Linked DNA regions of Homo sapiens. The protein of the gene in region 4 purifies or fractionates together with the protein of the main gene of each other region. This does not show direct contact. Each region holds a gene or a part of one and is shown on either strand. Other genes may lie near its edges. The genes, in order: HARS1, USP16, MAP7D1, PPL, OLFM4, G6PD and ECI2.

Region 1 (3,500 bases), on a different chromosome or scaffold from region 4:
TCCAAAACAATTTAGTGAGAAGAGTGGCACTGATTTACATCTTTGCAAATCTTTAATGTCTGACTGAATAGAAGACAGCAGGATTCTCATATGTGATTTTTGCATTCAATCTGTCGTGATATGTCGTGCTGGTTGAAGTATATAACGAAAATCTAACCTTACACAGATATGTAGTTGTAAAAGGAAGAGTATTTTAACAAACTTTTCAGCTAACTGTGGATATTTTTCTTTGGTACTACATCAGAATCCAACAAGTGGTTGTTTCTTAAAGATTGGTTGCAATGTGGAATTTGAAAGCTAGATCAATGAACTTAAAAAAAAAAAAAAAGAACAATTAGTCTCTCACTTATCTAGTACCTAGAATAGTCAAATCCATAGAGACAGAAAGTAGAAAGTAGGATAGCAGTTACCAGGGGCTGGAGGGAGGGTGAAGTGGGGAGTTATTGTTTAATGGGTACAGAGTTTCAATTGGGGATGATGAAAAAATTCTGGAGGTGGATAATGGTGATGGTTATGAGTATGAATGTACTTCATGTTACTGAACTGTACACTTAAAAATCATTAAAATGGGCTGGGCGTGGTGGCTCACACCTGTAATCCCAGCACTTTGGGAGGCCAAGGCAGGTGGATCACGGGGTCAAGAGATCGAGACTATCCTGGCCAACATGGTGAAACCCCATCTCTACTAAAAAATACAAAAATTAGCTGGGCGTGGTGGCACACACCTGTAGTCCCAGCTACCTGGGACGCTGAGGCAGGAGAATTGCTTGAACCCAGGAGGTGGAGGCTGCAGTGAGCCAAGGTCATGCCACTGCACTCCAGCCTGGTGACAGAGTGAGACTCTGTCTCAAAAAAAAAAAAAAATCATTAAAATGGTAAATTTTATGTTACGTATATTTTCCTACAAAAAAAAATCCACTACTGTATTTTGTACTTTGAATGAATGGATCCTTTGCCTGTGCATGATTTCATAACAGGTCTTTCAAATGTTGATACATTTCATTATACAATATCAGGAAGCCTTATTTATTTACATCACTTCAGATCTCATCAAGAAAGTCTTTTTTTTTTTTTTTTGAGATGGAGTCTCGCTCTGTCACCCAGGCTGAAGTGCAGTGGTGTGATCTCGGCTCACTGCAACCTCCACCTCCCAGGTTCAAATAATTCTCCTGCCTCAGCCTCCTGAGTAACTGGGACTACATACAGGCGCGTGCCACCACGCCCGGCAAATTTTTTGTATTTTTAGTAGAGACGGGGTTCCACCATGTTAGCCAGGATGGTCTTGATCTCCTGACCTCATGATCCACTTGCCTCTGCTTCCCAAAGTGCTTGGATTACAGGCATGAGCCACCTTGCCTGGCCTGTTTTTATTTGTTTGTTTGTTTTTGAGATGGAGTCTCACTCTGTCACCCAGGCTGGAGTACAGTGGCGTGTTCTCGGCTCACTGCAACCTCCACCTCCCAGGTTCAAACGATTCTCCTGCCTCAGCCTCCCAAGGAGCTGGGATTACAGACGTGAGCTACCATACCTGGCTAAATTTTTATTTTTAGTAGAGACAGCGTTTCACCATGTTGGCTAGGCTGGTCTCAAACTCCCGACCTCAGGTGATCCGCCCACCTTGGTCTCTCAAAGTGCTGGGATTACAGGCGTAAGCCACCACACCCAGTAGAAAACTCTTTAATTATTGGGAAGCTGTCAAGCTTATGATGGAAGATGCAAGTTTTCTAAAATTCTTTTTTTTTTTTTTTTGAGATGTAGTTTCACTCGTTGCCTAGGCTGGAGTGCAATGACGCGATCTCGGCTCACCACAACCTCTGCTTCCCAGGTTCAAGCGATTCTTGTGCCTTAGCTTCCCTAGTAGCTGGCATTACAAGCATGCGCCACCACGCCCAGCTAATTTTTAGTAGAGATGGGGTTTCTCTATGTTGGTCAGGTTGGTCTCAAACTCCCGACCTCAGGTGATCCGCCCGCCTTGGTCTCCCAAAGTGCTGGGATTATAGGCTTGAGCCACCATGCCCTGACTAAGTTTTCTAAAATTCTAACTTTCACCTGAATACTTGAATTTTTTCACTGCCTACAAGTACTGTCAGATGTTTTCCTTGAGGTGACGAGGCTCACTTCGTTTATTGTTGTAAAAATGTCTGCCAAATATTTAAGTTTGAAAAACCATAATTTATCTTTCAGTTGTTAATTCAAATAAAACAAGATGTTCTATGAAAAAAGTAGCTAGATCAGCTTGCAACTTGAACAATGGCATAAGCATTTTCCCTACCTTGGCGTGCAGAAGTGCTTTATGTGTACTTCCCATTTTGTCATAGCAAATATTTAAAAATAGGGTCCTCAAGGGTCAAGATTCAATAAAATCAGTAAGTTTTTGGCCAGGCATGGTGGCTCAGCCTAGCACTTTGGGAGGCCAAGGTGGGCAGATTGCCTGAGCTCAAGAGTTCCAAACCAGCCTGGGCAACATGGTGAAACATGTTGTAGGTTTCTTGTATGTTTTTTGTATTTCTGTAAAAATACAAAAAATTAGCTGCATGTGGTGGTACCCGCCTGTAATCCCAGATACTCAGGAGGCTGAGGCACAATAATTGCTTGAACCCGGGAAGTGGAGGCTGCAGTGAGCCAAGATCGTGACACTGAACTCCAGCCTGGGCAACAGAGTGAGATTCTGTCTCCAAAGAAACCCCAAAACAAACAAAGTTTTACCATTTTATCAATGACATAGTTAAGTAAAACTGAATTTTTTAAATTAATTAATTAATTAATTTATTTATTTACTTACTGTGAGTGCATGGCAGTGAAGAACACACTGGCTATTAGTACAGTTTAGTGTCACTGTCTTAATGTATGCTAAGGCACCAGCAGTTCTACTCACCAGCGCTTTTGTGCCTTCAGTGCAAATGTTAACACAACGAAAAAGGCAGATAATGTCTTAGAATTATTATAGAAGGGCCAGGCGCAGTGGCTCACGCCTGTAATCCCAGCACTTTAGGAGGCCGAGGTGGGAGGATCACTTGAGGCCAGGAATTCAAGACCAGCGCAGCCAACACGGTGAAACCCCATCTGTACTAAAAATACAAAAAATTAGCTAGGTGCGGTGGCACATCCCTGTAGTCCCAGCTACTCGGAAGGCTGAGGCAGGACAATCGCTTGAACCCGGGAGGCGGAGGTTGCAGTGAGCTGAGATCACGCCACTGCACTCCAGCCTGGGCGACAGAGCAAGACTCCGTCTCAAACAAAACAAAACAAAACAAAACAAAACAAAACAAAACAAAAGAATTATTATAGAAATAGTTTTGACCATGAAGATCCCTTGAAAGAGTCTTGTCCCCACAATACTGAGTTTTCTATTGTTAATACTAAAATGGATATTAACTCTCTAGCATAATCTTAACACTATAGTATGGAAATTTTCAAAGACACAATATAGAGAATAGTATTACAGGTCACCATTTATCCATTACCCAGCTTCAACAACCATTAACATCTGCTATTCTTAT
Region 2 (3,500 bases), on a different chromosome or scaffold from region 4:
GAATGACAGCCTAGTTCCTTAGTTCTAGCTCTAACATTCTAACATTCAAGACTGATAAAAGATACCAGAGTAGCAAACTGGGAGAGAAAATGCATGTAACTTGTTTTGTGAACTCTAAGACTGAACTCCTTTGATATTTTAAAAACAAAAGAAAAACCTCAGGAAAATATTTCAAACAAAATCTTCCTTTTATTTTCCTATGCTCCCAGAAATAATCTTGATAAGTTTAATATAACTAAAAGCCATAATTTTACTACTTGATCAGCCAATTTTCCAAATACGTGAAACCTATAAGCATTATTCAAATGATAATTTATGCAGAACCACACTTTTCTGACAGAAAATGCCAGCAGGGGTAATTCTCTCCATTACTGGCCAGGCTCTAAAGGGCACCAAGGAGGCAAAGAGTTGCTATGAGTTGATTCAAATCTGTGCTTTATAATACAGTGCCCTTAGTCACTTACGGCTATTTAAATTTAATTACAATTAAATAAAAATAAAAATGTAGTTCCTCAGTTTCACCAGTCACATTTCAGGCGCCACACGTGCCTAGTTGCTTCTATATGGAACAGCAAAGGTATAGAGGAGTTCCATCAACATAGGAAGTTCTACTGGGCAGATCTGCCCTAAATCTTTACACGCCACATAATAAGAACTAAGTTGGCTCCATGATTAATAAACCAACTACTGACAACTCACAGTAACAAATATAATTCATGTATTACTGCTAATTATAATTTTAAGCTTTTGAAAAGTAAAACTGTAATTCATCATAGTTCTATCTTTAATACATAAAAAGAATACACCATGGGGTAAAACTGTTCACTTCTGGAGCACTGAATAATTTTTACTAATCAACGTTGATAAAGAGAAATTATACATTAATAATTGTGGACTTGGAAATATATGTGCCAGCAATCTTGTCCTAAGGTACAGAGGAATTCAACTATAGTGTTTTAGTTCAAAAAGTCAGACATTACCTTTAACTTTATTTTTTAGTTCTTCATCCAACTTTTCAGTAGAATTACCAAATGCTTTAAGTATTCCTTTACTCACTCTCTAAAAGTAATAAAATGGATATATATATACTATTAAATTTTAAATTTTATTTTCCTTAGAAATATGTAATCAAGTCAAGAAAGTGATCAGGATACAGCTCCCCATATTTACTAAATAATTCCAAAATCACATTTTCAAACTTAATTCAAGGAGCTAAAAAGGAATTATGTCACAAAGCAATCACTAACCATTGAATAAAGGTATTATCTTATCATTTCAAGATCTTAAACCTCTTCAAGCCAAAGGTTTTCAGAACATGCCCACCACCTTTGAGAAGAAACTGAAATAGCTTGTCCTACAAGCACAATGATTACATGACAGCCACAGGGTCTGACTCCAGTGCTTAAAGCCCAGCTCCATTATTTCTGGGGGACCTTAAACTAGGTACTGAACTTCTCTACAGCCTAGATTCTCAATCTATGGAATAGGAAAAAATCACAGTATCCACCTCACAGAAACTTTGTGAGAACGAAGTAAGGGAATTAATACAAAACACTGAAAACAGTGATTGGCATAAAAATAAGTGCGAAATAAATATTAGTTATTATCACTATTATTAGTACTCATTAATTCATACCCCAAATACATTTTTTTATATCCTGGCAAGTAACAAAAATTTTAAAATGCAACCAATGTTCCCTGACTCTTACAAAATGAAAATACTTCCTAGGTTCAAAAAACAGTATTAAATCAGACTCAGAATTAAAAGTAAGGGTGTGCTGCACCTGGGTTTGGGAGAAACAATTTCCAATATTTGGCAGCTCTCTTCGTATAGGTTAGTACAACAGAATCTTTAAAGAACATTAATGCTGTAAACATCAACTAAACTTAAGCCATCATGAGAAAGAGAATTACTGCTAATTCTCTGGATTCATTCTAATGGTGAAAACATACTAGTTGAAAAAGCTGGTGTAAGAAAAAATTTTAAAGTATGATGGCCTTAATAACTAGCTTTCATTGTTTTAACTCGTAAGATATCAAATGAGACAGAAAGCTTATGAAGATAAGATCATAAAATACAATGGTCATAACATGCTAACTTGGTGTTCTTCTGCTCTCATCCCATCCAATAAGTAGCGAAGCAGCTCCTGGCTGTCTTGCTGCTGATAGCCTTTAAACCGCACTGCTCTAGAGAAAAACAAAAAGACAGAAAAGCAATCTTCAGTCTACTAAGCTCTGAAGCTATTTTTAGAAAATCTTAGGATCATATCCCAAATCTCAGAGAGTTCTGGTTTCTACAAATTTCCGTTTAGTCCATTAACACCCTTGGGAGATTTAACTATCACATAAAATATATTTTAAAATCCAAATGAAAAAAAACTATGCCTTTTGTATATAGAGGGTTGACTAAATGTAATGCTATTAATATTTTTATATTTTACTATTTAATATTAATATTATTTCTCAGCATCTCACTGAGGCACTGAAAGCACAATCGAAGTGGATACTCACTTTTTACAGACCTGAGAAAAGAGTTCTTTCGGTGTCACAACCCCCTTTTTGGTCTCTTGCATCTCATTAAGAAACTGGCTCATGGCTAAAGTAAGAGGGCCTGGAGGCTCAAGGTTTATTTCTAATGGTTCCTGAATATGGGAAAAGAAATTACTTTCTTCAGTCAAATTCTGGAATCACTGACTTTACTAAAATCTAATTAGTTAACATATACTACCAATGTTCCTGACAGAACTGCCCCATTTAAAAGTTTAAAATGTACATCAAAAGAGATAGAAACTGTTTGGTCACAGACTGTCTTATGCAGAATTCAGCTCTACTATTTTAGTTTTAGATTATCTGGAACACTTACTACCTAAGAATTGAAAGAGCCAAAGCAAAATGTAAATAATAAAAATGGATAAGGTAATATTTATTTGGTTACACAGCTCTTAAGTCACCTTAAAGATGTTAAAAATAATAATGTAAGCCTAAGGCTTCTCAAACATATACACATTCCCAAGAAGGAAGCTTAACACTCGAGCATAGAAAAACAGAGCACACACACAGCAAACAGATGTAATGCCTCCTTATAACTTCTATTAGCCTGAAACTGTTTAAGTTAGTAGCCTAAAGTAAAACAAAACAAACAAAAACAGTGGAAATGAGTGTCAGTTATTTAAAATAATTTAGAAAACACACATTCAGAGAGGAAAGTTACAGACTAGAAAAGTTTAAAGAACATACTGTTAATGCCAAATCAGGTGGTTCAATTTTTACAATTGTTCCAGACATTTTCACTTCTTTTAGTAGTTCTCTAAGCACTGGTGTTTGTGACAAGTTCTAGAATGTAGGGTGAAAAAAAAAGAGAAAAATTATTTAAAGGCAAATCAACTCTGACACTTCTTAAGTGTCTATTCTATCAAAACAGAAAATCATGACCAACACTGAAAACTCTATACTTGGAAAATGAAAAGTTACAGATGCTTCTCTCCCTACTCTATTTGGGT
Region 3 (3,500 bases), on a different chromosome or scaffold from region 4:
CTGAGGAGATCAATGGGAACACAGCTACCAACTTGCTTAGGGAGCAGGGCCGGCATCTGTGGGAAGCTTCATCTAAGGAAACATTTTTCTTTTTTTTTTTTTTTGAGACGGAGTCTCGCTCTGTCACCCCGGCTGGAGTGCAGTGGCGCAATCTGGGCTCACCGCAAGCTCCGCCTCCTGGGTTCACCCCATTCTCCTGCCTCAGCTTCCCGAGTAACTGGGACTACAGGCGCCCGCCACCACGCCTGGCTAATTTTTTGTATTTTTAGTAGAGACGGGGTTTCACGGTGTTAGCCAGGATGGTCTCAATTTCCTGACCTCATGATCCGCCCGCCTCAGCCTCCCGAAGTGCTGGGATTACAGGCGTGAGCCACTGCCCACCGCGCCCGGCCTTTTTTTTTTTTTTTCAAGACAGAGCCTTGCTCTGTTGCCCAGGCTGGAGTGCATTGGCACGATCTCGGCTCACTGCAACCTCTGCCTTCCAAGTTCAAGTGATTATCCTGCCTCAGCCTCCCAAGTAGCTGGGATTACAGGCACCTGCCACCACGCCCAGCTAATTTTTGTATTTTTAGTAGAGACGGCGTTTCACCATGTTGGCCAGGCTGGTCTCGAACTCCCGACTTCAGGTGGTCTGCCCGTCTCGACCTCCCAAAGTGCTGGGATTACAGGCATGAGCCACTGCACCCGGCCTTATATGTTATTAGTTTTAATCCTCACTGACAATAGTTATGAAGGAGTCCTCATATAGATGAGGACAGTAAAGTAAAAAAAGATGAAGCAAAAAAAAGAGGTAATTTGAGATCATTCAGCTGGTCAGTCAGGGAGCCTGGACTTGGACCCAGTAGCCATCATCAGAGCCTGTCCTTACCCATTATACCCTCCTGCCTTGTTGAAGGCAATATGAGGGAATAGGTGTTACGCAATAAATTATCTGAGGCTCACACTATTTTCCGCCTCATTCCTTCCCATCCAGCTTGCTAGGATCCAGGCAAGAGCCCCAGCTGAGGCCCTGTCTTCCCCATTACCCCTCCAACTCCACCAACTCCACCAACTCCTAGGCTACATGACAAGCCACCCATCTCTTCCCATACCAGCAGGAGACGGCTGCCTGGTCACTGCTAATCTATTTCCCAGCCAACTGCAAACTCCTTTACCAATTCCAGTAGTCAACAAAACCAGTTACTCACTCTAGTGAGTGCTTACTACTCACTAACAGTGGTGCACCCTGTGTCCTCGCAATTCTGAGAGGCAGAGATTCTTATCCCCATTATACAAGTGTGGCAACCAAGGCCCAACCTGCAAAGTGATCCACACAGAGTCATAGAACTAGTATGTGGCAGAGTTGGGCTTTTTTTTTTTTTTTCCTGAGATGGAGTCTCACTCTGTTGCCAGGCTGGAGTGCAGTGGTGCGATCTCGGCTCACTGCAACCTCTGCCTCCCAGGTTCAAGCAATTCTCCTGCCTCAGCCTCCAGAGTAGCTGGGACAACAGGCAGGCACCACCACACCCAGCTAATTTTTGTATTTTTAGTAGAGACGGGGTTTCACCATGTTGGCCAGGCTGGTCTCCATCTCTTGACCTCGTGATCCGCCCTCCTCAGCCTCCCAAAGTGCTGGGATTACAGGCGTGAGCCACCGCACCCAGCCTAGAGTTGGGATTTGAACTCAGGACTGTCTGAAGCCAAAGCCTGGGTGTGTAAGTATTAAGCTTGAAGGTTGAGGGTGAGGTCTGTTTATTGCCATTCTCCAAGCACCTGTGCGTGCTGCAGGTGTTGCAAGGAAAACTGGTAGGCGGGTGTTTGTCTACACCTAGGCAAATCACACCCACCAGGCAAGACAGTCAGTGAGTCCCCAGCAAGGTCCTGACTCGCTATGTGAAAGGAGGCTGGGAGGAGGTAGAGGAGTGAGGCTTGGAAGAACCTGCACCCAGGCATCAGATGCAGTGGAGCAGAAAGGTCACAGGCTTCAGAGTCTGACAGGCCTGACTGAGGACCTCGGCTCCCGGCGAACCTCGGGCAAGCCCTGAGCCTGTGTAACCACAGTTCCCTCATGGAGTTGTTGGCACACATGGGGAGTTGGTACAGACGGGTACATCATCGGTGGCACCTGGCAGGGGCTTGGTAAGCAGCACCTGCCCCGAAGAATATATCCACGTCTCCTCATCTCTGCCAGGAGGAAATGCTTCAGCCAGGCCTTACCCCCACTGCTCTGCAACATTGCACTTCTCAAGGACACCCGTGACCTCCATGCTGCTAAATCCAGCAGGCAGTTTTCCATCCCTCATCTTCCTTGGCCACTATGCAGCTGCATCTGCCACAGTTGATTTCTGACTGCTCCTTGAAACACTGTCTTCACCTGGCTTTGAAGACAGCACATTCTCCTAGTTTTCCTTCTACCTTGCTGACTGTCATTTCTCAGTCATCTTTGCTGATCCTGCCTGAACTTCCCAACCTCTCAGCGCTGGAGTGCCCTAGGGCTGAGTGGAGGACCTCATTTATTTTCTATCCACACGCACTCCCTTGGTGACCTCATCCAGACTCACAGATTTAAATACCATCACTGCTGACGACAACCAAATTTGTGTCTCCAGCCCAGGCCTCTCCCTTGAGGTCTAGTTTCACTCATGCAACTCCCAGCTGCTTGACACCCCTGTGTGTCTCAAAGATGCCCCCAATTTAACACATCCCAAACTGAGCTGCTGATCTTCCCCCAAAAGCCTGCTTCTCCCCATTTTCCCCATCTCAGTTAATGACAACTACATCACACCTCATGTCTAATCTCTCAGCAAATCCTTCTGCCTTTATCTTCAAAACAGATCTCAAATCTAATCATTTCTCACTGTCTCCACTTCTATCACTTGGATCAGAGCTACTATCAGCTCTGATAAAAGACTCCCTGCTCCAGTCTTTGTTCCCCCTGGGTCTTTTCTCAACACAGTAGCCAGAGTGATTCTGTTTAAAAATAAGTCAGATTGGCCGGGTGCGGTGGCTCACGCCTGTAATCCCAGCACTTTGGGAGGCCAAGGCAGGCAGATCACGAGGTCAGGAGATCGAGACCATCCTGGCCAACACGGTGAAACCCCGTCTGTACTAAAAACACAAAAAATTAGCCAGGCATGGTGGCAGGCGCCTGTAGTCCCAGGTACACAGGAGGCTGAGGCAGGAGAATTGCTTGAACCAGGGAGGTGGAGCTTGCAGTAAGCCAAGATAGCGCCACTGCACTCCAGCCTGGGTGACAGAAGGAGACTCTGTCTCAAAAAAAAAAAAAAAAAAGGTCAGATCACGTCACTCCTCTGACAAAATCCTGCAATGATTCCTCATTTGAGGGGAAGAAAAAGCCAAAGTCATCATGATAGCCTATTAAGGACTCCCCAGGATCCTGACCTCTTCGACCTTGTCTCCTCTTCTCCCCCTGCTCAGTTTTTCAGCCACTGTCCCTTAAGGGTGTTGGGGAGATTTCTGCCTCAGGGCTTTGTACTGAGGAAACAATATTTCCTCAGTGG
Region 4 (3,500 bases):
CTTTCCAGCGTACTAGTTTTGCTATTGTAAATAGTGCTGTTGCAACAATGTTGTTTATCCTGCATTTTTTTTTTTGTACTTTTTCCTTAAGGATAAATTCCCCCAAAGTGTTTACTGCTTCAGAGTATAAAACCCTTTTACAGCATTCCATGTCTAGTACCATGCTGTTTTCCCAAAAGCCTGTGCCAGTTTGCACAGCAGCCGGCAGTGCCTCGGATGGCCAGCTCCACCCCCATGTGCCAGGGCCGGTGCTTGCTGCTTCTCTGACCAGGGCACGGTGGAATAAGACCCCTGCTGTTTGTGCTTTGGGCGGAAGTTTCCCGGCTCACCTTTACAGCTTGCTGGTACTGCTGGGAATTGGCACAGATCTTCTGTACTTCCTGCTCCCTACTTGCTATCTCATCTAGCAGGTTCTGTAAGACAGAGTTTAAAAATCAAAACTAACCAGAAAAAAAATTTAAAAAAGCAACCATGGATGCAGTAGCTGGAAATCTCAGAATCTGAATTTATTCTTCTCTAGCACAAAGTATGATGAATGGCTCCCTTGTATACATTTTTATTCATTGCAAAAGGCAGTTTTTTTGTTGTTGTTGTTTTTTTTTTTTTTTTTTTTTTTTTTTTTTTTTGAGACAGTCTCACTGCATCGCCCAGGCTGGAGTACAGTGGCGCGATCTCAGCTCACTGCAGCCTTAGCCTCCTGGGTTCAAGCAATTCTCCTGCCTCAGCCTCCCAAGTAGCTGGGACTACAGGCTCCTGCCACCATACCCAGCTAATTTTTTTTTGTATTTTTAGTAGAGATTTGGTTTCATTATGTTGGCCAGGCTGGTCTTGAACTCCTGAACTTGTGATCCTCCTGCCTCAGCCTCCCAAAATGCCGGGATTACAGGTGTGAGCCACCGCGCCCAGCCACAAAAGGCAGTTCTAAGGCTCTGTGAAGAAGGGCCAAGATCATTATCTCTGCTAGGAAACAAATGTTTACTGATGATTTGGACCACCAGACACTGTTCTGCTGTCTGACTTAGATTATCTCATTTAATCTTCAAACGATGCCAGGAGGTAAGCATCGTGACCTCCAGCTTATGAGTGAGGAAAGCTTCTGAGGTGGGGATGTGGCTGATGGGGTGGACCCGGGATTTGCATCTCAGCCATTGGCTTCCCGTGTTCCTCCCTCACCCCAAGGCACTGCGTTGGGCATGGGGGAGGCAGGAGTCCCAACTTTGAAAATGGGATTTCCCCCACAAAGGCGGCTCCTCATTCTGTAGCTGTTCACTCACATAGCCAACCCACGCCAAGTGTCCATTCTGCACCAGGCCCTGTGCGGGGCACTGAGCTGGGAGAGGTGAGCGACACACTCGGTTCTTGTTCTCAGAGGGTTGGGTGTTGGGAGCTTGAGCTGAGGCCCAGGGAGGACACAGCTGTGGCAGGCCTCTGCCCTGCTCCACCTCCCAAAGGCTTGGCTCCCCAGAAAGGGGCTTGTTGACCTCTGACCCTCCCTTGCCAGTGTGTGCCTGGGGCTGCGGAAACGGCCATCTCACCTTCTGGTTCTTCAGCTTGGTCTCCATCTGGCTGAGGCTGTCTGTCTCCTGGGGCTCGTAACTGGGGATGCTGACTAGGAACTGCAGCACGTGGTCATGGCCGCGGTGGAAGTGCTCGTAGGCTGCCTTGGCGCTCTGTAGGCTCTGCGCCCTGTCAAGGCAAAGCGTTCAGGCCTCAGCCACAGCAAACAGATGCCTCACCGAGCCCTCATTTTTTTTTTTAAAGTGGGAAACAACCAAATGTAACAACCAGAAATACCCCAAGTATCTCCCACACAGGGTGGGTGGTCATTAGGGAACGTCAGGTTGGACTGTGGAGAACCAGGTGGGTCCATATACATTGACTTGCAGAGATGCCCATTGTGGATTACAGGACCCAGGTAAGCATGACTCAAAAGAGAGACCACAGGGCCGTCAGAGAATCTGACGAACTCACCAAAAAGAAAAACAGCAAAATCTGTGGGACACGGCTAAAGCATTGCTTAGAGGGAATTAGATCGCATTCTCAGAAAACAAAAATGGCCACCACCCACCGCACCCTCACCTGCGTTCCACCTGCTGGCGCAGGTTGTTGAAACGCTGGCCCAGCTTGTGCACCTCGGCCTCCTGGCGCTCCAGGTCCGGACAGTGCTCCTGGAAGCGGCTGGCCAGTGTGCTCGAGCACTGCTTGGCCGCCTGCAAGTTCTGCTCCACCTCACCCAGGAGGGACTTCTGGGCCTGTAACTCACAGGCCATGGCCTGGCGGGGCAGAGGAGGAGACGGCGGTGCTACGGCCAGAGCTCCCAGAGCCAGGCGATGACACCCACTGAAGCCCCTGGGCCACTGACTGTAGGAGGGTGGGCAAGGCCACAGGTAGGAAGGACCGGAGCCTTGCTCTGTACATCCCAAACCTGGGTCACTTCTGCCATCTTCTGTTTTTTAACAATGAACAAAGCCCTGAAAAGCTAACTTCTAAAAACCCTGCAGCAGGCAGCTCGTGCCCTGCGCGAGAACAGCCTGCCACTGTCTGGTCATGAGGCTGTGGCAAAAGCAAGTCGTGAGATGGGAGTGTGAATAAGGGGCCTCAGGTCACAGACTTGAATGTTTCCTGTGCTCAGGCAGTGTGGGAAGGGGGCCCGTGGCAACTGCGAGGTAAGCAGGCCGAGAAGGCAGCTGCTCCTCTGCCCACTGACTTGCCCTCTGAGCTGCAGCCCAGGATGCCAGCTCTGCTCAGCAAGAGATACTGGGAACATGGATTGTTATGTGCTTTATGCTTTTTTTTTTTTTTTTTTTTTTTTAAGAGATAGGGTCTTGCAACGTTGTCCAGGCGGCTGGACTTAAACTCCAAGGCTCAAGCAATCCTGCCCCAGCCTCCTGAATGGCTGGTGTTACAGGCATGTGCCACTACACTGGCTATTGCAGATATTTGATCTTAAAATGCTGGCACCCGAAATCCCGTAAGTCACACAGATCCCGTGAATAGCTTGGATTTGTGCTGTGGGCCTCCATTTGCAGTTCCCAATTTGGGCATTCCAAACCTGGGGAGACTGGATGCTGGTGTCCTCATCTATCCAGACGGGCGGGTGGATGTGCCAGATGCTCTCACCTGCTCAGAGAAGGACTCCCAGGACTTGGGCCCTAGACTCACCGCCAGCTCCTGCCCCTTGCTGTCCAGGACACGGCTGCTCTCAGGCACTGTGTCATCCTGATTCAGATGGTTCTCGTGTGTGGCCAGCAACTCCCAGCTCTGCTGCAGGCTCTTCTCCAGGCGGTTGGCCACATCAACCCTGAGAGCACCAATCAGGCGTCGGGGGATGCCCACCTGGCCCCCTGACCCCACCCCAACCTCCATGCTGCCTGTCTGCCACCCACTTCTCCTGGGCCAAGTCCAGCAGCTGCAGGAGGTGCTCGTATTTCCGGTTGGTGTCCTCCACCCGGGTCCTCAGCAGGGGTGTGGTGCCACTGCCTGGGAGGGCCTGGATGAAG
Region 5 (3,500 bases), on a different chromosome or scaffold from region 4:
AAAATAAAGAGACTACAACCTTGGATTTCACTTGGAGAAAATAGAAAAAAATAAAAGAGACTACAACTTATTGTCACAAAAAAAGAGAGTGAGGGGGAGAGAGAAGGAAGTGAGCAATTTGTAAAGATAAAAAAGGGTTAAAGGAAAGAGAGAGGGAGGGAGGAGGATGAGAGGGAGAGGATTTGAAGGAGTGGAAGTGGAGGAAGGGAAAAGAAGGAGGGAAAAAAAGATCATCTAAAAGTAAGAAAATACCCAAAAATGTCCCCCCCAAAAAAGAATTAACCAGGAAAGGAAAAGAGAGATTAGAAGGGATGAATAAGGGCAAGGATTGAGGCAAGAGAAATAAGAAACTAAAGGATGCAGGAATGGAATAGAAATAGAAGAAAAGGAAAAAGAGAAGGGAGATAGAATAGAACTAAAGGGGATAGAGGAGAAGAAAGAAAAGAAAGCAAAGCTTGAGGAAAGACCTAGAAGACCAAAAGGAAGAAGCAGCGTCAAAACAAAATAAAAATTGCAGGTTGGGGTTTGCAAGGAGAGCTCAAGGCTTCTTTCCAACTGCCTAAGTACCACAATACTATAGTGAGTTTATCCACGGCGTGAACAATTTGAACCCCACTTTCTTCCTGTGCTCTCATTTTCCCTGCCTTAATAAGAACTCCATTGGTGTCCTATAAAATAAATACTAAAATCACCATAGAATAAAAACGTGATGTCTTTGATAGTGAAGAATGATTGCTTATAAAATCCTAAATTAAAACACATTTTGTTTTGTTTCTCTTTATCAAGATATTGTTTGAAAAGAAAATGCTTACTTTGGAAAGTTCTTTCTCAAACTTCTGAGAAAGAACATGAGCTGTGAATTCCAAGCGTTCCACTCTGTCCACGGGAAAGGTGGTGTCTGGCAGGGAAACAGAGCACTGGCAGGTCCCACGGTCATCCACGGAGCCGGTGAAATTGGAAAACAACTGCAAATAATAACAAGTTGAACATCAATAACAAGCTGGAATCTGAGCTTTTGGCAACTGGAGTGACAGAAATTGGCTTGTCGAGAGTACTTACAGGCAAGTAAGTGGAGTCCAATACATAAATGAATAGAATCATAGAAACAAGCTAAAACAGCTTTGTTTTCACAGGTGGGGACCACCCAGCGTTTAGCCACATCGCCACTGGTTGTACGAAAACCACTACGCCAGCAGACTTTACCTAAAGGAAGATTCCCCATTCTCGAGGCTTTTTTTTTTTTTTTTTTTTTTTTTGAGACGGAGTCTCACTCTGTCGCCCAGGCTGGAGTGCAGTGGCGCGATCTCGGCTCACTGCAAGCTCCGGCTCCCGGGTTTACTCTATGCTCCTGCCTCAGCCTCCCAAGTAGCTGGGACTACAGCCCGCCACCACGCCTGGCTAATTTTTTGTATTTTCAGTAGAGACGGAGTTTCACCGTGTTAGCCAGGGTGGTCTCGATCTCCTGACCTCGTGATCCACCCACCTCGGCCTCCCAAAGTGCTGGGATTACAGGCGTGAGCCACCGCGCCCGGCCATTCTGGAGTCTTAAAGGAGATTATTCCTATCTCTATGCAAGGAAAGGGAAATAAAGAAGCTATGAGAGTGCTAAGTTTGAATTTCAATTCTAGCACTTGCTAGATGTGAAATCTCCTTAATTCTTAGTTCCTTCATCTGTAAAATAGAGATAACCTACTTCACAGGGTTGTCCTCAGTATTAACGAAGTAATGTGAGCCAAGTCCCTGGCACAGAGTAGGTGATCTGAAAATGTCACATTCTCTTTCCTTCTACTGCTCATTTTCTCTTCCTCACCTTCACCCCAACCCAATCCAATTCCTTTTCATCAGAATGAGGGAATCACCAAAGATGTGGGCTACAGTGAAAATATATGATGCAAATTCATATCCTCTCATCGCCTGGGAAATTGCAAATTAACATCCTTCAAAATGGGAACCAGCCATTTGTTAGAAAGTGAATAGCGTATGAGCTTGAAGGTTTTGTGCAATTTTTTTTAATAAAAGTTTTTTTCCAGCTTACCATTTGCAGAAAAAGTCATTTTAAAATATTTTATGTTCATTTAAGATATTCAGACTCACACTTCAGTGCCACCGCATATTTTTAAATGACACTTTTGAAAGATCCTGTTTTTCTTTTGTCCCCTTTGAACTTCCCCAAGAGGATCCCAGCACAATTAACATTTTTTTATTACTACTATTGCCTTACAGAGTAACCCTTGGCAGCCAATTTGCTGTGCCTTTTAATGATCTCATCTGAAAGCCAACCCAAAGCTCACCTGTGGAACATCAGCCTGAAGGGACTTTTTATGAAACCTCTAAGGAGACAGCAATGGTCTTCAGAGCCAGAAGTGACTCTGGCCATGTCTCTCAAAGTTCAGGTCAGCCAGCTGCAGGTGGTGTAATGGGTCCTGTGCATTTAATGGCCACCAACCTCCATAATGCCTGATCAAGCTGGGTCTAGATGCTTCTATAATGAAGACTTATTTTATCACTGGCCTCGGGGCCAATCAAGGCTTTTGCATCTAAGTTGTTTTTAATTTAATTTAAGTTTCAAGATGAGCAGAAAAAAAAAATATGTGTGTGTATCCAATCATATTTTTTATGTGTTTAGTCAAAATTTATTACCTTGGTCTCAATTTTCTTTTCCAATCACATCCCTACGTGGGAAACAGTTCAGGAGTAGGGAGGAGAAACAAGCAGATTTATGTCGAACATAGGGGTGGACAGCAGGGTTTGAATAGGGGAAGGGTCTTTGCCAGAGATGAATAAAGACTCGGTAAGATACACCAGGAACCTATCAGAGAGGCCAGCTTCCCTTGAAACCAGCTTTACTCATTTCTCCAAAGATAGAAAGACTCCAACTCAAGCATGCCAAGGCTTTTACAGAAAAGACCGACATATCAAGGACTTTTGAAGAAATAGCTTATTATAATAACAGTCTAGCAAAAAAAAAATCTTGCATTGCATTTTAACAAGGGGAGTTTAATTAGCTGCACAAACAGGGTTGGGCCATTCTCAGAGTTCTCTGAAAAATTCTGCCAACTCAGAAAACAGTGGATATCATCAAGCAATCTCTAGACAGTCAATTAGGAACCACTAGCTAACAACTTTTAGTCCTGAAGTTCACTTGAAAGACAGACAAGTAATTATGAGCCCTGCTGTCAGCCATTCCATCGGTTTCTATTGAACATCTCTGTCCCAAAGCTGTGGACTCCCCCAGCTTCCATCCTGCTTATCATCAGCCCAGCATGCTCAGCTGACATCAAAATGGTCCATAAGTTTGATCAGTGTCTCCCATTAGAGATATTTCTGCTCCTCGCATTCAAAGACAATGAAGCTAATGGTGATGAGTCTCTCTCTGCGGTGAATGCCCAAACTCTACATGAATGAAGCATGGGGGATGGGAGACAAAGACAAGAGCTTGTCCCCTTGGCCTTTGGAAGAATATGCGATTCCCCTTCTGTAGGGCAAATAGGACCCTGAGT
Region 6 (3,500 bases), on a different chromosome or scaffold from region 4:
AAAAGATAGAACTGCAAGCCAAATTACCAGGAAGAAAATAGGAAATAATGACAAGTAAAATTAATAAAATTAAAAGCTAACCCAAAGAAAAGATGAACAAAGCTGGAAATTGGTGTTTGAAAAAGACGAATAGAAACAGACAACCCCCTGGCATGGTTGCTTTTTTAAAAGGGCATAGGCCGGGCACAGTGGCTTACTCCTGTAATCCCAGCACTTTGAGAGGCCGAGGCAGGCGGATCAAGAGGTCAGGAGATCGAGACCATCCTGGCTGACACGGTGAAACCCCGCCTCTACCAAAAATACAAAAAATTAGCCAGGCGTGGTGGCGGGTGTCTGTAGTCCCAGCTACTCGGAAGGCTGAGGTAGGAGAATCACTTGAACCCGGGAGATGGAGGTTGCAGTGAGCCAAGATTGCACCATTGCACCCCAGCCTGGGCGACAAGAGTGAAACTCCGTCTCAAAAAACAAAAAACAAAAAAACAACTAAACAGCTGGACGCGGTGGCTCAAGCCTATAATCCCAGCACTTTGGAAGGCCGAGGCGGATGGATTACCTGAGTTCGGGAGTTCAAGACCAGCCTGACCAACATGGAGAAACCGTTTCTACTAAAAATACAAAATTGGCTGGGCATGGTGGCCCATGCCTGTAATCCCAGCTACTCAGGAGGCTGAGGCAGGAGAATCGCTTGAACCTGGGAGGCGGAGGTTGCAGTGAGCCAAGATCAAGCCACTGCACTCCAGCCTGGGCTACAAAAGCGAAACTCCGTCTCAAACAAACAAAAAACAGAGCAATGGACCTGAGAGGGGACAGTGGCCACAAATCTTCCTACAGAAACAACCCCCTGGCATAGAGAGTGTTGCCAGTGGGTTCTACCAAAATGCAAGCACAAGAGAATTCCAGCCTGAAGCAAACTCTTCCTGCAGAAGGAAGAAAGGGGAACACTTCCCAAGCCACCTTATGGGGCCTACAGAGCCTTGGTACGGAAACCTGATGAGAAAGGCACATGGGAAAACCCATACGCCTCATTCACACACACATGCAGATGCAGAAATCCCACACGAAATATCAGCAGGCCGGGCACAACTCACACACCCCAGCACTTTGGGAGACCAAGGTGGGAGGAAGATTGCTTGAAATCAGGAGGTTTTTTTTTTTTTTTTTTTTTAAAGACATGGTCTCACTCTGTCACCTAGGCTGGAGTGCAGTGGCACGATCTCAGTTCACTGCAACCTCTGCCTCTGGGCTCAAGCAATCCTCCCACCTCAGCCTCTGGAGTAGCTGGGACTACAGGTACATGCCAACACACCCAGCTAATTTTTTGTATTTTTTGTAGAGACAGGGTTTCCCCATGTTGTCCAGGCTGCTCTTGAACTCCTGGGCTCAAGTGATCTGCCCGCCTCAGCCTCCCAAAGTGTTGGGATTACAGGCGTGAGCCACGACGACCCACTGACCCTGTCTCTTTAAAAAAAAAGAAGAAAACATCAGCAAACCAAATCCTGCAATGTTAAAAACGGTAGGTTTTTTATTTACAGAATAAATACATCTGTAAATAAAAAGTTGGTTTGATATTAACAGAAAAAAATCATTGAAATTCACCATATTAAGAGATTAAAAAAAACCTCTAAGAACTCTCTGCCTACTGCTATGTTTTGATTTTTTAAATCTAGCAATCTTGCTCAACCCAACAGATGTAGATCAAGTGTTTCAGAAATCACCTATTCACGCTAAAACTCTTAGCAGAGGGGGAATGCAAGGGAACTTCACTAACTTGATAAAGGGCATCTATAAAACACCATTCTGGCTGGGCGTGGTGGCTCAAGCCTGTAATCCCAGCACTTTGGGAGGCCGAGGCGGGGAATCGCTTGAGGTCAGGAGTTTGAGACCAGCCTGACCAACATGGTGAAACCCCATTTCTACTAAAAATACAAAACTTAGCTGAACATGGTGGTGTATGCCTGTAATCCCAGCTATTCAGGAGACTGAGGCAGGAGAATCGCTTGAACCAGGAGGGAGAGACTGGAGTGAGCCGAGATCACACCACTGTAGCCTGAGCAACAGAGCTAGACGTCGTCTCAAAAAAAAAAACCACCACCAAAAAACAAAGAACAAAAAAACCCCCAAACCATCATCCTTACAAATACTACAAATATCACACTTATAGGAAATGCTGAAATATTAATCATCCCTTTAAGCAATCAGGAACAAGAAAAGTGCAGTAAGGCAAGAAAATGAAAATGGCTGAAGTTGAGCTGTGAGGTGGTGCGGGTGCTCCCTCTGATCAAGTGAAACACACACCTATCCTGTGACCTGGCCGTTCCACCCCAAGAGAAATGAAAGTGCAAGTCCACACAAAGACCTGCACACGAATGGTCACAGCAGCCTTGGTTCATAGCGGCCCCAAACTGGAAACAAGTCAAACACTTGAATTAACATGTGACCCGGCAAACTGTGCATTCATACAACGGATACTACTCAGCAACACTGGGAAATCTCAGCATCAGAGATGCAACCCATTGTGACAGAAATCAGATCAGCGGTTGCCTGGAGCAGGGCAGATTGGCTGGGAATGGGTACCCAGGAACTTTCTGGGGAGATGACGATGGCCTTTATTGTGATGAGGGTGTACAGCCAATTGTACAGTTAAGATTTGCGCACCAACAAAAGACGGCGAGAAAACCAACAATGGAGCGGAGGGTGGGGAGTGGGTCAGAAATGACCCTTTGAGGGCCAGTGACTGTGAGAGCCCCAGGTGAGGGGGCTTCCTGGGTGCAGAGCATATTCTGTTTCTTGATCTAGGAGCAGTTTCTGTGGCTGTGCTGAGTTTGTGAAAAGTCATCAACAAGCTAGACCTGCACCATCTGTGTTCTTCATGACATGTATTTCTTTTTTTTTTTGAGACGGAGTCTCACTCTGTCGGCCAGGCTGGAGTGCAGTGGCGTGATCTTGGCTCACTGAAATCTCCACCTCCTGGGTTCAAGCCATTCTCCTGCCTCAGCCTCCTGAGTAGCTGGGACTCCAGGCACCTGCCACCACGCCCGGCTAATTTTTGTATTTTTACTAGAGATGGGGTTTCGCCATGTTGGCCAGGCTGGCCTCAAACTCCTGACCTTGTGATCCACCTGCCGTGGCCTCCCAAAGTGCTGGCATTACAGGCGTGAGCCACCGTGGCCGGCCCATGACATATATTTCAATAAAACATGGTAAAAACTAATAGTCTGGGCGTGGTGGCTCATGCCTGTAACCCCAGCACTTTGGGAGGCTGAGGAGGGTGGATCACCTGAGGTCAGGAGTTCGAGACCAGCCTGGCAAACATGGTGAAACCCCGTCTCTACTAAAAATACAGGCCAGGCGCGGTGGCTCATGCCTGTAATCCTAGCACTTTGGGAGGTTGAGGTGGGTGGATCACGAGGTCAGGAGATTGAGACCATCCTGGCCAACATGGTGAGACCCCGTTTCTACTAAAATACAAAAAATTAGCTGGATGTGGTGGTGCGCGCCTG
Region 7 (3,500 bases), on a different chromosome or scaffold from region 4:
AGACCAACCAGTGAGACCTATGGGTCAACCCTGGTTTGAATCTTGTATTCTGGACAGTGAGTTCAGGGCTGTAAACCAGCCGCAGTCTTAGAGATTAGGTTGGGTGACTGAGCACATGCTGCAATATCACAACAAGTGGGAATTACAGATTTGGCAGGAATAAAGAGAAAAGCCTTCATGACCTCCTCCTGTGTTTACAAGACTCCTCCGAGTCTCCTACCTTCAGCGTTCATGGAAATCTCCCATTCCTCTGGCTGGATGAGAATTTGCTAAATTCCTCTGCCTCAGTGCAAGATAATTTTGTTTACAACTATAGCTCACTTTTATGTTTTCCAGTCAAATCTCATGAGACCAGCAGGATGAACAGGTAACAGAGGTCAAAGAGAAAGAATGAATGCCCACCTATGGATGGAGGCAGTTTAGAGAAATATGCTTGTCCAAAGTCACAATTAACTGCACTGACACAGAGAAGCAGATATTGCACTTTTGCTCAACTAAATACCACTTTGATGACTAAGAACGGGCCCTCTGGGATCAGACAAAGGTCAGTAACTCTTACCTCAGTAAAACGGCATTATTTTTAGCTTTCTCCTCTACTCCACCAGGGGGAATATCAGTGAAGTTAGTCAGATCATTCCCACTACTGTAATAGTCACCATTTCCTATAAGTAAGAAAATCAACAGATCCCTCATTCAATCATCCTATAATTCTTGAGTATCTACTGCATGCCAAACTCTATGGTTAGGCAAGGGAAATACATTGGAGAACGAGCAATGGTTCCTGCCCTAACTTACAAACTAGTGAGTACGCTGGACACTGATCTATAAAAACACACCGATAAATGTAGCTAATGCTACTGTTGAAATAGAGGAGTGGTGCGTCATGAAATGAGGGTATGTACCAGGAGGGTTGGTCTAATCAGGGAGTTCAGGAAAGAACTTTCCTAAGGAAGCGACAACTGAATTGAGATCTGAAGGAGAGGCCAGGTGGGCTAGAAAAAGAGGGCTGGGAAGAACAGTTTACACAAAGGAACAGCCTGTGCAAAGGCTCTTTGGAGAGGTTATCCCCACTGTAGATGAAGTAAGAGCCACTGTAGCTGACTCAGGGAAAGCCAGGGGGAAGTCGGTGCAGGATGAGGACTGGCAGAATAGACCTGACAGTGCTTTGTAGATCCCATGAGGAAGTTTTTTCTTTATTCTAAGAGCCACTGAAAGTATGTTTCTGAGTGTGTGTGTTTAATTAAAGTACAATTTATATACAATAAAACAACCAGTTTTTAAATGTTCATTTAGATGAGTTTTAATAATTTTAAATACCCACAAGATCACCATCCAAAACAAGATACAGAACATCTCCATCACCCCAAAAGTTTCCCGTAGGCTCCTTCCTAGCTATCCCACCCCACCTGCTCCAAGGCAATCACTTTCTGACTTCAATTTCCACAGAGAAGAACTTTTGTCTACTGTAGAACTTTCTACAAATGGACTCATACAGTATGTACACTCCTGTCTTTATTTTGCTGAACTGTGTTTTAAAGATGCATCCACATTCTTGTGTATATCATTTATTCCATTTTATAGCTGAGTATTCCATTGTACAAATAGTCAACAATTTGTTTATTCATCCATGTGTTTTTGAACATTTGTTTTCTGGTTTTGGCCGTTATAAATCAGGTTACCATGTCTGCTCCTGTAAAAGTCTTTTGGTGGACATATGTGTCTTAATTGATGTTGGGTAATTGCGAAGGAGTGGGTATCTGTGTTTTTTTAAACATTTTTTGTATATTTATAAATCAGAGTATGACAGTACTGGAAAAGATCTTAGAGCCTTTTTTTTTTTTTTTTTTTTTTTTTTTTGAGACAGAGTCTCACTCTGTTACCCAAGCTGGAGTGCAGTGGCGCGACCTCGGGTCACTGCAAACTTTGCCTTCCAGGTTCAAGTGATTCTCCTGCCTCAGCCTCCTGAGTAGCTGGGATTACAGGTGTGTGCCACCATGCCCGGCTAATTTTTATATTTTTAGCAGAGATGGGGTTTCACCATGTTAATCAGGCTCATCTCAAACTCCTGACCTCGGGAGCCACCTGCCTCGGCCTCCAGGTCTTAGAGCTTTTTAACTCAATTTCCTATCTATTAAGAGGCCCCTCAAAATAGAAATTTAATTAGGATGCCTGAGAAAATGTCTTACCTGTTAAAACAGTGATGATTGAGTCATCCTTGCTGGCAGCTTTAAGTGCACGCATAATTTCATGATACATCTGTGTAATGGGAAGACAAGGAAAAGAAAAGAACTCTGAACACAGGAATCATCAATCAATGGACTCAACAAATGTCAGGCTGCAAGCTTGCTCTCAGCAAAGTGCCTAACATTTATTTTGGTTGTATTTTATAACCAAAAAGGTGGACCAACATAACTGAAGGAATTTTTATTCCTTTCACAGTTACCTGGTGCATATTATGTACCTGGTGCTATGGCAGGAGCTGCAGGCTATAAACCACTTTTTTTCCAAAAGGGACCAAGAAAGAAATAGTCCTTGAGCTTTTGGAATTAACAGAGGACTTAACATGTTCAATTTGGAATTAACATGTTCAAATGAGGAGGGGGTTGGAAAGTACAAAGTAGCAGGGAACTCAGAGGAGGTGCTGAGGCTTATCTAGTGTGGGCAGAGTGGGAGGTGGTCAGAGAAAACTTTCTACAAAGCAACGTCTCTGTTGTGACCTCAAGGAAGCCCCTGGCAGTCTGGGAAGTGTTAGTGACTGCCAAAAGGCTGGAATTTTCAAGACACTGTAATGGTATTCAAGGAAGGTGGCTCAAAATTTTAAATCAGCAACATTTCTGAAAATCTTGGACAAGCAGCTATATAGCTTTTAATGCATTTAAAACAGGTGCAATTTCAACCTTAGATGAGATTTCAGTGTGGGAAAGAAATGAGGAAGAGGGCTGATACTTATAGATACAAATATACTGGAAAAGACACATGGACTTTACATAAAACAGCCTGCCCTCCGTATCCACGGGTTCCACATCCATGGACAACCAATCACAGATCAAAAATACCTGGAAAAGAATTCTGTATCTATACTGAACATGTACAGGCTTTTTCTCTTATCATTAGTCCCTAAACAATACAGTATAACAACAATTTAATATAGCATTTACATTGTATTCAGTATTATAATAACTCTAGAGATGATTTAAAGTATATGGGAGTGTATATAGAGGTTATATGCAAATATTATGCCTTTTTATGGGGGACTTCAGGTTCCGCGGATTTTGTTGTCCACACGGAGGTCCTGGAACCAATCCCCATCGGATACCAAGGGATGACTGTACATGAATAAGCGTTTAAGCATTTCTCCTGAGGGAAGTGATAAGGAACTCATTCTATCATTATTATAGTTATGATAACACCACACAGCAGGGCGACTGGTGAGACCAGGATTAGGAGATGGATTATCAGGGTTCCTTCCTTCCAACTGGTGAGACCAGGATTAAGAGATG

The links.
Region 1: the proteins of PPL (region 4) and HARS1 fractionate together in Homo sapiens (co-fractionation; one large-scale study listed by BioGRID). This does not show direct contact.
Region 2: the proteins of PPL (region 4) and USP16 purify together in Homo sapiens (affinity purification with mass spectrometry; one large-scale study listed by BioGRID and IntAct). This does not show direct contact.
Region 3: the proteins of PPL (region 4) and MAP7D1 purify together in Homo sapiens (affinity purification with mass spectrometry; one large-scale study listed by BioGRID and IntAct). This does not show direct contact.
Region 5: the proteins of PPL (region 4) and OLFM4 purify together in Homo sapiens (co-immunoprecipitation; one large-scale study listed by IntAct). This does not show direct contact.
Region 6: the proteins of PPL (region 4) and G6PD fractionate together in Homo sapiens (co-fractionation; one large-scale study listed by BioGRID). This does not show direct contact.
Region 7: the proteins of PPL (region 4) and ECI2 purify together in Homo sapiens (affinity purification with mass spectrometry; one large-scale study listed by BioGRID and IntAct). This does not show direct contact.

The regions. Positions count from the first base shown.
Region 1 is NC_000005.10:140,684,871-140,688,370, forward strand, and holds part of HARS1 (histidine--tRNA ligase, cytoplasmic), read right to left. Parts: intron 1-3,500. UniProt on the Homo sapiens protein: Catalyzes the ATP-dependent ligation of histidine to the 3'-end of its cognate tRNA, via the formation of an aminoacyl-adenylate intermediate (His-AMP). Plays a role in axon guidance.
Region 2 is NC_000021.9:29,038,168-29,041,667, reverse strand, and holds part of USP16 (ubiquitin carboxyl-terminal hydrolase 16), read right to left. Parts: intron 3,334-3,500; coding exon 3,238-3,333; intron 2,643-3,237; coding exon 2,512-2,642; intron 2,188-2,511; coding exon 2,100-2,187; intron 1,060-2,099; coding exon 981-1,059; intron 1-980. UniProt on the Homo sapiens protein: Specifically deubiquitinates 'Lys-120' of histone H2A (H2AK119Ub), a specific tag for epigenetic transcriptional repression, thereby acting as a coactivator.
Region 3 is NC_000001.11:36,166,160-36,169,659, reverse strand, and holds part of MAP7D1 (MAP7 domain-containing protein 1), read right to left. Parts: intron 1-3,500. UniProt on the Homo sapiens protein: Microtubule-stabilizing protein involved in the control of cell motility and neurite outgrowth. Facilitate microtubule stabilization through the maintenance of acetylated stable microtubules.
Region 4 is NC_000016.10:4,888,649-4,892,148, forward strand, and holds part of PPL (periplakin), read right to left. Parts: coding exon 3,387-3,500; intron 3,302-3,386; coding exon 3,163-3,301; intron 2,274-3,162; coding exon 2,080-2,273; intron 1,687-2,079; coding exon 1,536-1,686; intron 414-1,535; coding exon 330-413; intron 1-329. UniProt on the Homo sapiens protein: Component of the cornified envelope of keratinocytes. May link the cornified envelope to desmosomes and intermediate filaments. May act as a localization signal in PKB/AKT-mediated signaling.
Region 5 is NC_000013.11:53,031,813-53,035,312, reverse strand, and holds part of OLFM4 (olfactomedin-4 precursor), read right to left. Parts: intron 966-3,500; coding exon 813-965; intron 1-812. UniProt on the Homo sapiens protein: May promote proliferation of pancreatic cancer cells by favoring the transition from the S to G2/M phase. In myeloid leukemic cell lines, inhibits cell growth and induces cell differentiation and apoptosis.
Region 6 is NC_000023.11:154,536,847-154,540,346, forward strand, and holds part of G6PD (glucose-6-phosphate 1-dehydrogenase), read right to left. Parts: intron 1-3,500. UniProt on the Homo sapiens protein: Catalyzes the rate-limiting step of the oxidative pentose-phosphate pathway, which represents a route for the dissimilation of carbohydrates besides glycolysis.
Region 7 is NC_000006.12:4,125,576-4,129,075, forward strand, and holds part of ECI2 (enoyl-CoA delta isomerase 2), read right to left. Parts: intron 2,257-3,500; coding exon 2,187-2,256; intron 663-2,186; coding exon 560-662; intron 545-559; exon of another isoform or gene 1-544. UniProt on the Homo sapiens protein: Able to isomerize both 3-cis and 3-trans double bonds into the 2-trans form in a range of enoyl-CoA species. Has a preference for 3-trans substrates.